2 linked regions of the Homo sapiens genome follow. The protein of the gene in region 1 purifies or fractionates together with the protein of each later gene. This does not show direct contact. Each region holds a gene or a part of one and is shown on either strand. Other genes may lie near its edges.

Region 1 (4,524 bases):
TGAGTTCTTAGAAACTATGTTAGTGTTTGTTTAAGTCTTTTAATACATGTGGTGGGGGAGGGAAGATGGGGAGGGTGGATGAAATCATTTTTGCTGACAGTCTATAGATTTTGTAAGCCAAGGCTGAGGTTTAGTCAAAAAGAGAACTAGAGTTCAATGAAATTGAGAATCTTTGTTAGAGGAGTCAGTTGTTAAACATTTACCCCAACACATATAGAGACAGAATATCATTTGGAGGGGAGGGTAGCAGAATTGATGGATATATTTTAGGAATAGAGGATATTCTAGTTCACAGAAAAGAAGTAATTGAAATGAAACTGACAGATGTGGAAAATTTAATTTAAAAGGTAGTGGGTATTTAACTCTTAATTGCCTTATAGGGATTTAGAAAACCTGAATAAACCTCTAGTCATTAAGTAAATAAAATTATTACTTAAACTCTACGTATACTAGTCAAAAAACAAAATAATACTTTGACTCAAAAATTAAGTTATTAGTTAAATATCTATTTACCACAAACAAAATATTAAATACTGGCAACTCAGTTTGAAAAAAAAAAATCTTCCAGAAATAAATTAGGAGATAGAAAAATATAAACTTTGATGAAGAATATTGAAAGTGTGGGTGGGATGGAGAAAGTGACAAAAATTATTTAATTCTTCTCATAGTTCATATTATAGTTTGTAAGTACTTTTTTTTACATTATCACATTTGATTATTAATTTTATCTGAGGAAAGTAAATCTTCCTTATACTTTTTAAATTTTTTATCTGACAAATAATTATATATGTGATGTTTTGATACATGTATGCAGAGTAGAATGATCAAATTAGGCTAATTAACATATTTATCACCTCACATATAGTACTTATCATTTTTATTTTGTGGCAAGAGTATTCAAAATCCACCCTTCTGGCAATATTGCCAACCATGGCTCAGTGAGGTGCCTAATGTCTCATAAGTATTTGGAAGAATGGCTGGGATTGTATCCAAGATTCTGAAGCAGCACTCTTTACGGAGCAGATAACACTAGAGTAGAGAGGAGACTGCAGTGTGTAAGACAACATATAACGGCTATAAATATGAGCAACAGACAAGATTAGGAGTCGGTCTTGATGATATTTATGTCCCCAGTGTCTCCCTGTCCTCACCCTTTCAGGGTCAAAGAAGGTCAGTCAAATTTTATAAAGATCCTATCATAATTGAAAGTTGTATGCTTACTCCCAAGTCATGCAGTACAGGAACCCATTTGAACCTAGTTTTCACACCAGTTATTGTTATTTACTAAAGGAAGTAATTGCCTTGAGACATGTTCTATCTCAACTTGGACTGGTAGTTATTGTTGTAGTAACTAATAGGTAATGAAGGACTACTGGCTAATGAACTTGCTGTATGTCAGTTCCCTTCCTGAGAGAGCACTTTAGTGACCCCAGGAGGTCTGCTCAGAAGGCCCATGGGCTTCTGCCTCTATGAGGTCCCTATCAAGAATCCAGGTTTTATGGGAGAAGAATTTGTTTTATGGTTTAACTTATTCCCACAGGTTCCATCAAAGTGATAAACTTCAACCCCTCCAGGCCCCGGGAATGGCTGGGTATAATACTGCAAATGAGACATAGGAAGTATACAGGAAGTTCTCTTCAAACTTCGGACTCCGAGCAGTGGCTGGGCTTCCAGAGTCAAGCTCTAGCAGAGCACTCCCCACCAACAATCTCTAGGTAAGACTTTATCAAGCAGGCATTTTCATCTTCACATTCCTTCTTAGTCTGATCACTAAGAGACCTAGAGGATTCAGAAATATGGAGAGGTTTTTGAATAATCAGGGTCCATAAAACACATAATTGAAACACAGAAACTATTTTTAAAAACAGATATTCTGCTTTTCAAATGCTATAGTGAAGAGTCTGGCTTCAAAATTAGTAAATTGGCTATATTTTTAACTAACTGTGTAAACTGGAACAAGTCTTCTCCCCTTTCTGGATCCCAGTTTTTGTTGTTTGTTTGTTTGTTTCGTTTTTTAAATGAAGACGTTGAGTGTGATAATCTCTAAAATTGCATCTCCCTTCTTACCCCCAGATCTTTGGCCCTATGCCTAAACAATTATGAACTATGAATAATGCAGCTGTGGTATCTGAAGAAAAGAATGCAAGGCATATATTCTAAAAGCTTTCTAGAATTAGGGGAATAAACTATGATTTCAATGGACCTAAGTAAGATAAATGTAAATTTGTATATGTGGTAGGTTTTATGAGAGCCCTGATTCCAATATCAGGAATAGGAGTAGATGAGTAACTGATGAGCTAAAGAGCTGCACAAGTCATCTCAATTGCCCTCTTTTTCATTACCCACCATAACTCGGATATATCAGGCATTGTGCTAAGTACTCTAGGAGGTAGGACATGGTATGAAGTTTCCTCATTAATTTCAAAAAGCTCACAGAGAGTTGCCTTGGAGTGATAAGACATATGCCTGGAAAATAATTGCAGTGCATTACAGGATATAATTGGAGGGACAGTGAGAAAGTACTACTGAGAATTTAGAAGTGTGAAAGAACAGTATTTAACTTAGATGGTCAGGGAAAAAAATGACAGACTTGAGCTAGAAAATGATTCAAGTGTCTTCAGATTGACAAAAGATAAAGCATATTTTTAGTGAGGGTACACTGCAAACAAAGGAGTCTGGGCTAAATACAGAAACCCACTTGGCAAACATTGAAATTGCTATAATGGTGATGAAAAGAATGTTTGAACACATGACTCTGGACCAGAGCAATAGGGTTGTTTCACAGAGCAAAACAAAGAATAATGGTGAAAGCCAGGTTTCTGGTCATTGGAAAGGACAGTTGTAAACTAAAACATTTCAAAAATGGAGAGAACTGTCTTATGGGTCAGGAAGCTTCCAGTGCTGTAAATCCAGGCAGAGGGTTGATGCCCATTTGTGGCGATATGGATTCCTTTATGAGTGAGAAGATATGAGTTTTTGCTGGGCTGAATCAAAATTAGAAACATAAGTACAAATATGAAGTTTGATACACATGATTTATCCTTCTATTTTAGCCTTCCTTTTTGTGATATTTAAAGGTTTTTTCTTTTTATGAGCTGTTGGAAATATATAATACATTTCAGATATTCCAACAATCCAGTGAAATCCAAAATTATGGGGGCCACTGGAAAGTGATAGTTCCTAAAGCTTCTCTCAACACTAAATTAAGGTTTATCAGTACTAGCAGTTACAATCATAATTAGAAATAATAAAATAAATTTTTTAAAAAGGGAAAATCATCAGTATTTTTTGCCATCTTAAAGGGGGTGTGAAAAAGAGAAGGAAATGGTCCAAACCTCTGAGAACTGTGAACTTGGAAGATGAGGGAGTTGGGGGTGCTAGTTTTCCGTGGAAAATAATAATACTTGATCGGATCCTGATGACTTTGATTGCTTAGGCAGAGTATGGAGGGAGTGAACAACAGCAGGTCATTAATGAGTGATGATACAATGTATAGTGTGATAATAAGTCTTTGGAGTTATGTGGAAACTCTACCTTCTGAGAAAGGAGACGACAAAATACTGGCTTCTCATATTCAATCTTCTGACCAGCCATCCATGTAGATCTGAAAATTTAGTTAAGGGCTCACAGTCTAGACAACTCATCTGTGAGTGGGACTGGAGGCCAGAAAAGGAAAGAGGCAGCTCTAGAATAGAACCTTTTATTTATATTTAGAAGGGAAGGAATATAGAACATCTAGAAAACAAGGGTCTGAGAAGAAGTAGAAATTTAGGGATAATCCTTTATAGAAGGCAGGTATGCATTCAAGACTTGAAGAAAACAGAAGGCAGAATTGGGCAGTGGATAGACATGGATATGCGGTGAGAAAAACTAAGACAAAGAAATTTTGGATAATAAAGTAATTATTCTGAAGCAAAATCACCCATATAAAAGTTTGGCCCGGAAGTAGTTCTCTGGAATCTAAGTAGAGAAACATCCTATATTAAGTCTTGGATTGAGAAAGGCTTTTGTATATGGGATGGACATGCTCCCTAGGTTTAGAAAAATGCCAAGAAAAATCAGAGTAAACAAAGTTAGTTTGGATGAATTTCAGGATCCTGGAGAGGGAAGAAGTGATAAGAAGACCGGAGGGCAGAAGGAGAAGACTCGGTGTCTTTCATAACTCTCTGCCTTTGCACAGGCAGTTCCATTTGCTTCAAATACTTTTTATTTCATTTTTCCATCTAAAAAATTCTGACAGTTTCTTCACTTCAAATAAAAATTATATCTTCTGGCAAAGCATGGTGACTTATGCCTGTAATCCCAGCACTTTTAGAGGCCAAAGCAGGTGGATCACTTGAGCCCAGGAGTTCAAGACCAGCCTGGGCAATATGGCTAAACCCCATCTCTACCAAAAACACAAAAATTAGCCAGGCGTGGTGGTGCACGTTTGTAGTCCCAGCTACTTGTGGGGTGGAGGTGGGAGGATTGCTTGAGCCCAGGAGGTCAAGGCTACAGTGAGCAGAGATCCTGCCACTGCACTCC
Region 2 (3,823 bases), on another chromosome or scaffold:
GATGGCTAAACAACATAAAATTATTTTCTCACGGTTCTGGAGGCTGGAAGTCTGAGATCAAAGGTGCCAGCCTGATCAGGTTCTGGTGAGGACCCTCTTCAGGGATGCAGATACATCCTAAAGATTCTGTCTGTGTCCTTACATGCAGAAAGAGATTCCTTTCTTCTTATGAGGCCACCAACCCTATTGAATTAGGATCCCACCCTATGACCTCATTTAACCTTAATTACTTCCTCAAAGCTTTGTCTCCAAATACAGTCACATTGGGGTTAGAGCTTTAACACATGAACTTTGGGTGGACACAATTCCGTCCATAGCATTGGTTTATAAATCACAAGTATCTTATTGATGTAATAAGTTTTTATATATACTAGATCAAGTTAGGTCAAGTTTTCCCATCTTGTTTTGCTTTATAATGTATTTAGCTATTTTTTGCCTTTTAGTCTATGTACGAATCTGAGGTTCAGTTGTCAAGTTCATTTCCAAAATTTGTAGGTTTATTTTTGAGATCTCTGTTCTGTTTTGTCATGATGTATTTTGTTTGTTTCTGCCCAAACACCACAAGTTTTAATTGCTGTGACTTTATAATATGTCTTGGTCTGGGAAGGTAAGTTACCACTTTGTTCTTTTCAGCCATTCTTTTTCTTTTCTTTCTTTCTTTTATTTTTTTTAGGCAGAGTCTTGCTCTGTCACCCAGGCTGGAGTGCAGTGGTGTGATTTCGTCTCACTGCAACCTCTGCCTCCCGGGTTCAAGCAATTCTCGTGCCTCAGCCTCCCAAGTAGCTGGGATTACAGGCGTGTGCCACCATGTGTGGCCAATTTTTATATTTTTTGGTAGAGACGGTATTTTTGGTAGAGACAGTATTCACTATGTTGGCCAGGCTGGTCTCGAACCCCTGGCCTCAAGTGATCCTCCTGCTTCAGCCTCCCAGAGTGCTGGGATTACAGGCGTGAGCCTGCCCGGCCATAATATTCCTAATCTTCAGACCTTGTTTGAATTTTTCCAATTTTCCTGTAATGTCCTTTTTCTGGTCCAGGATCCCAGCCAGAATCCCATATTGCATTGGGTTTTCATGTTGCTTTATTCATGTTCAATCTGTAATAGTTCCTCAGTCTTCTCTTTTGTAAACTTGACATCTCAGAAGAGTTCAGGGTAGTTATTTGTAGAGTATTCCTCAATTTGGAGTTGCCTGATATTTTCTTATATGCAGACTGAAGTTATGCATTTTTGGTAATAATACCACGGAAATTTGATAAATGTGATGCATTTTCTATTGGTTCTGATAGTTTACATGTAGAGTCTCTTGGATGTTTTATGTAGATAATTGTATTAGATATTTTGGTTATTTGTGTCTTTCTAGCACATGGGAGGATTTTGCTTCTCCCACCTCTTGAAGTTACGCAAAGCATGTGGCTTTCCCTGGCCAATGAAAAGGGAGCTAAAGGGATGTGTGCTGAGACATTGAATTGCAGGTGCATGATTTCCCAGCTGTCTTTGCTCTGCTTGTTTAAAGCAAATGTTGATATGAGCATACCATTAGATCAAAATAGCATATGATAATAAACCGACCTTTGTATGCTTGCCTTCAAGAGTAGCCTGAATTAGCAATTGATTTTGCTTATGAGAAGATAAACTTGCAGTGTTAAGACCCCGAGATTTTGGGGTTGTTTGTGGCATAACCTAGCCTATGTGGTCTGACATAATAATCATATTGTCTATAAACAAGAATAGCTTAGTTTCTTCTCTTTTATTTCTTATATACATCTTTTCTGGTCTTATTCCATTGGCTGGGACCTCAAGGGCAATGTTTAATAAAAGCAGTGACAGGTTAGGTACAATGGCTCATGCCTGTAGTCCCAACATTTTGGGAGACCAAAGCAGGAGGATTGCTTGAGGCCAGAAGTTCAAGACTAGCCTGGGCAACATAGTGAGACCCTTTCTCTGAGAAAAAAAAGTGATAATGGACATCCTTGTCTTCACCTTCACCTTAATGGGAATGCTTTTAAGTTTCACTATCAAATATGTCTATTTTAGATATTTGATGGACACCCTTTGTCAAATTAAGAAAGATCTCTTTTTTATTATGAATTGGTGCTGAATTTTATTGATTCTTTTTTGATGTAGCTTTTGAAATAATCATAGACTTTTTCTTCCTTTAATTTACTGGTATAATTTATTAGTGCATTTCTTGTGTTTTATTTAGGACCTTTCCATTTGTATTCAAAAGAGATATTGTTCATAATTTTCTTTTCTTTTACTATCCTTGTCTGAAGTTGTGTATTTTTTCTCTGTCTCTTGGAAATGGCTTGCACAAAAAGGTTTTTTTTTTTTGTTGTTCCTTTAAAATTTGGTAAAGCTCACCTCTAAATCTTTCTGGGTTGTTGCATCGTAGAGTGGAGGCAGTGGACTTCTGATGACAGATTCATTGTTTATTTAGGTTCTATTTCCTTTTGTTTATTCAGGTTCTATTCCTTTTCAATGAACTACATTAATTCATGATTTGCTGGAAAATTATTTCAAAGTTTTGAAATTTATTGGCATAAAATTGTTCATAGTATTTTCTTATGATTTAACATTTTAAAAATTTCTCTGTTGCAGACCTTTTTGACTTTAAATATGATTTATTTCTGTCTCTTTTTTTCTTGTTAAATCTTGGTAAAGTTTTATTTGCTTTATTAGTTTTTCTGAAAGAAACAGTTTTTGAGTATGTAGATAATTTCTTTGGTTGTTTTATTCTGTGTATCAATGACTTGATAGTTATATCCTCGTCTTTTTCTTTTTCTCACCTTTCAAATGTTTATTGCTCTTTTTTCGTAGCTTCTTGAAGTATATGCTTAATGTATTCTACATATTTATTCTTTTGACCTATAACTTTATTTCTAAATAATTTTTAATTGCTGTCCACAGGTTTTGATATGTTGGTCTTTCATTTTTATTTGGTTTAAAATATCTATTATGATTTCCTCTTTAAGCCATAAGTTTTTTTGAGGCCTACTTTTGAAAGTTTCAAAACACACATTTTTCTCCAGTATGTTTTTATTGTTGATTTTTAATCCCCATAAGTGGTATGTGTGCAATTGAAAAGAATGTTTACTTTCTGTTTCTGTATGGTTTAATAAATGAAGTTTATTAATTTTCATTGTCAAATCATTATTACTAATTTTTGTTCTATTTGGTTACACGTTTCTAAAAGAAATGTGTAAAAATAAAATTTATTCTTAGAATGCTATCAATTTTTTGTTATATGTTTTGATGCTGTGTTGTTGAAGCTTACAAGTTCTAAAGATCTATATTATACTATCTATATTATAATAATTTATGGTGAATTGCTATGTAGTGTTGATACTTTTGGCTTGAATTCTTTTTGCCTTACATAGCTGCATTAGGGGTTGGTTTCTTTTTCTTTTCTCCCCCTAACTAATAGCAAGTATCTTTCCTGCCTATCGTTGTAGCTTTACTTTGGGTGTGTCATTTGAACTCGCATATAGGTAGATTTTTTCCAACCTGCTTATTGTGTTTCTAAGCAAGTGAACTTAATCCATTTATAATATACATAATTTCTGAGGCCTTTGGATTTAATTCTTTTATCTCATTATGTGTTTTCTTTTTCATACCTTTTTTCTTTAGTTCTCTTTTCTTCATTTTTTCGTCTCCTGTTGGATTGATACAGTTTTCTACATTCCCATTTTACTTCTTTTGCTGGTTTTCAGACTGTAGACTGTATATATATTTTTAATGATTATATTTAATCTTGAATCATGTATTTTAACGATATATAAACATTTTTGGTATTCCTGGTATTTTCTCTATCATGACAAGGAC

Evidence for each region.
Region 2: the proteins of OR6N1 (region 1) and B3GALT5 purify together in Homo sapiens (affinity purification with mass spectrometry; one large-scale study listed by BioGRID and IntAct). This does not show direct contact.

Annotation. Positions count from the first base shown.
Region 1 is NC_000001.11:158,769,212-158,773,735, reverse strand, and holds the start of OR6N1 (olfactory receptor 6N1), read left to right. Parts: upstream 1-1,540; 5' UTR 1,541-1,715; intron 1,716-4,524. UniProt on the Homo sapiens protein: Odorant receptor.
Region 2 is NC_000021.9:39,619,156-39,622,978, forward strand, and holds part of B3GALT5 (beta-1,3-galactosyltransferase 5), read left to right. Parts: intron 1-3,823. UniProt on the Homo sapiens protein: Catalyzes the transfer of Gal to GlcNAc-based acceptors with a preference for the core3 O-linked glycan GlcNAc(beta1,3)GalNAc structure. Can use glycolipid LC3Cer as an efficient acceptor.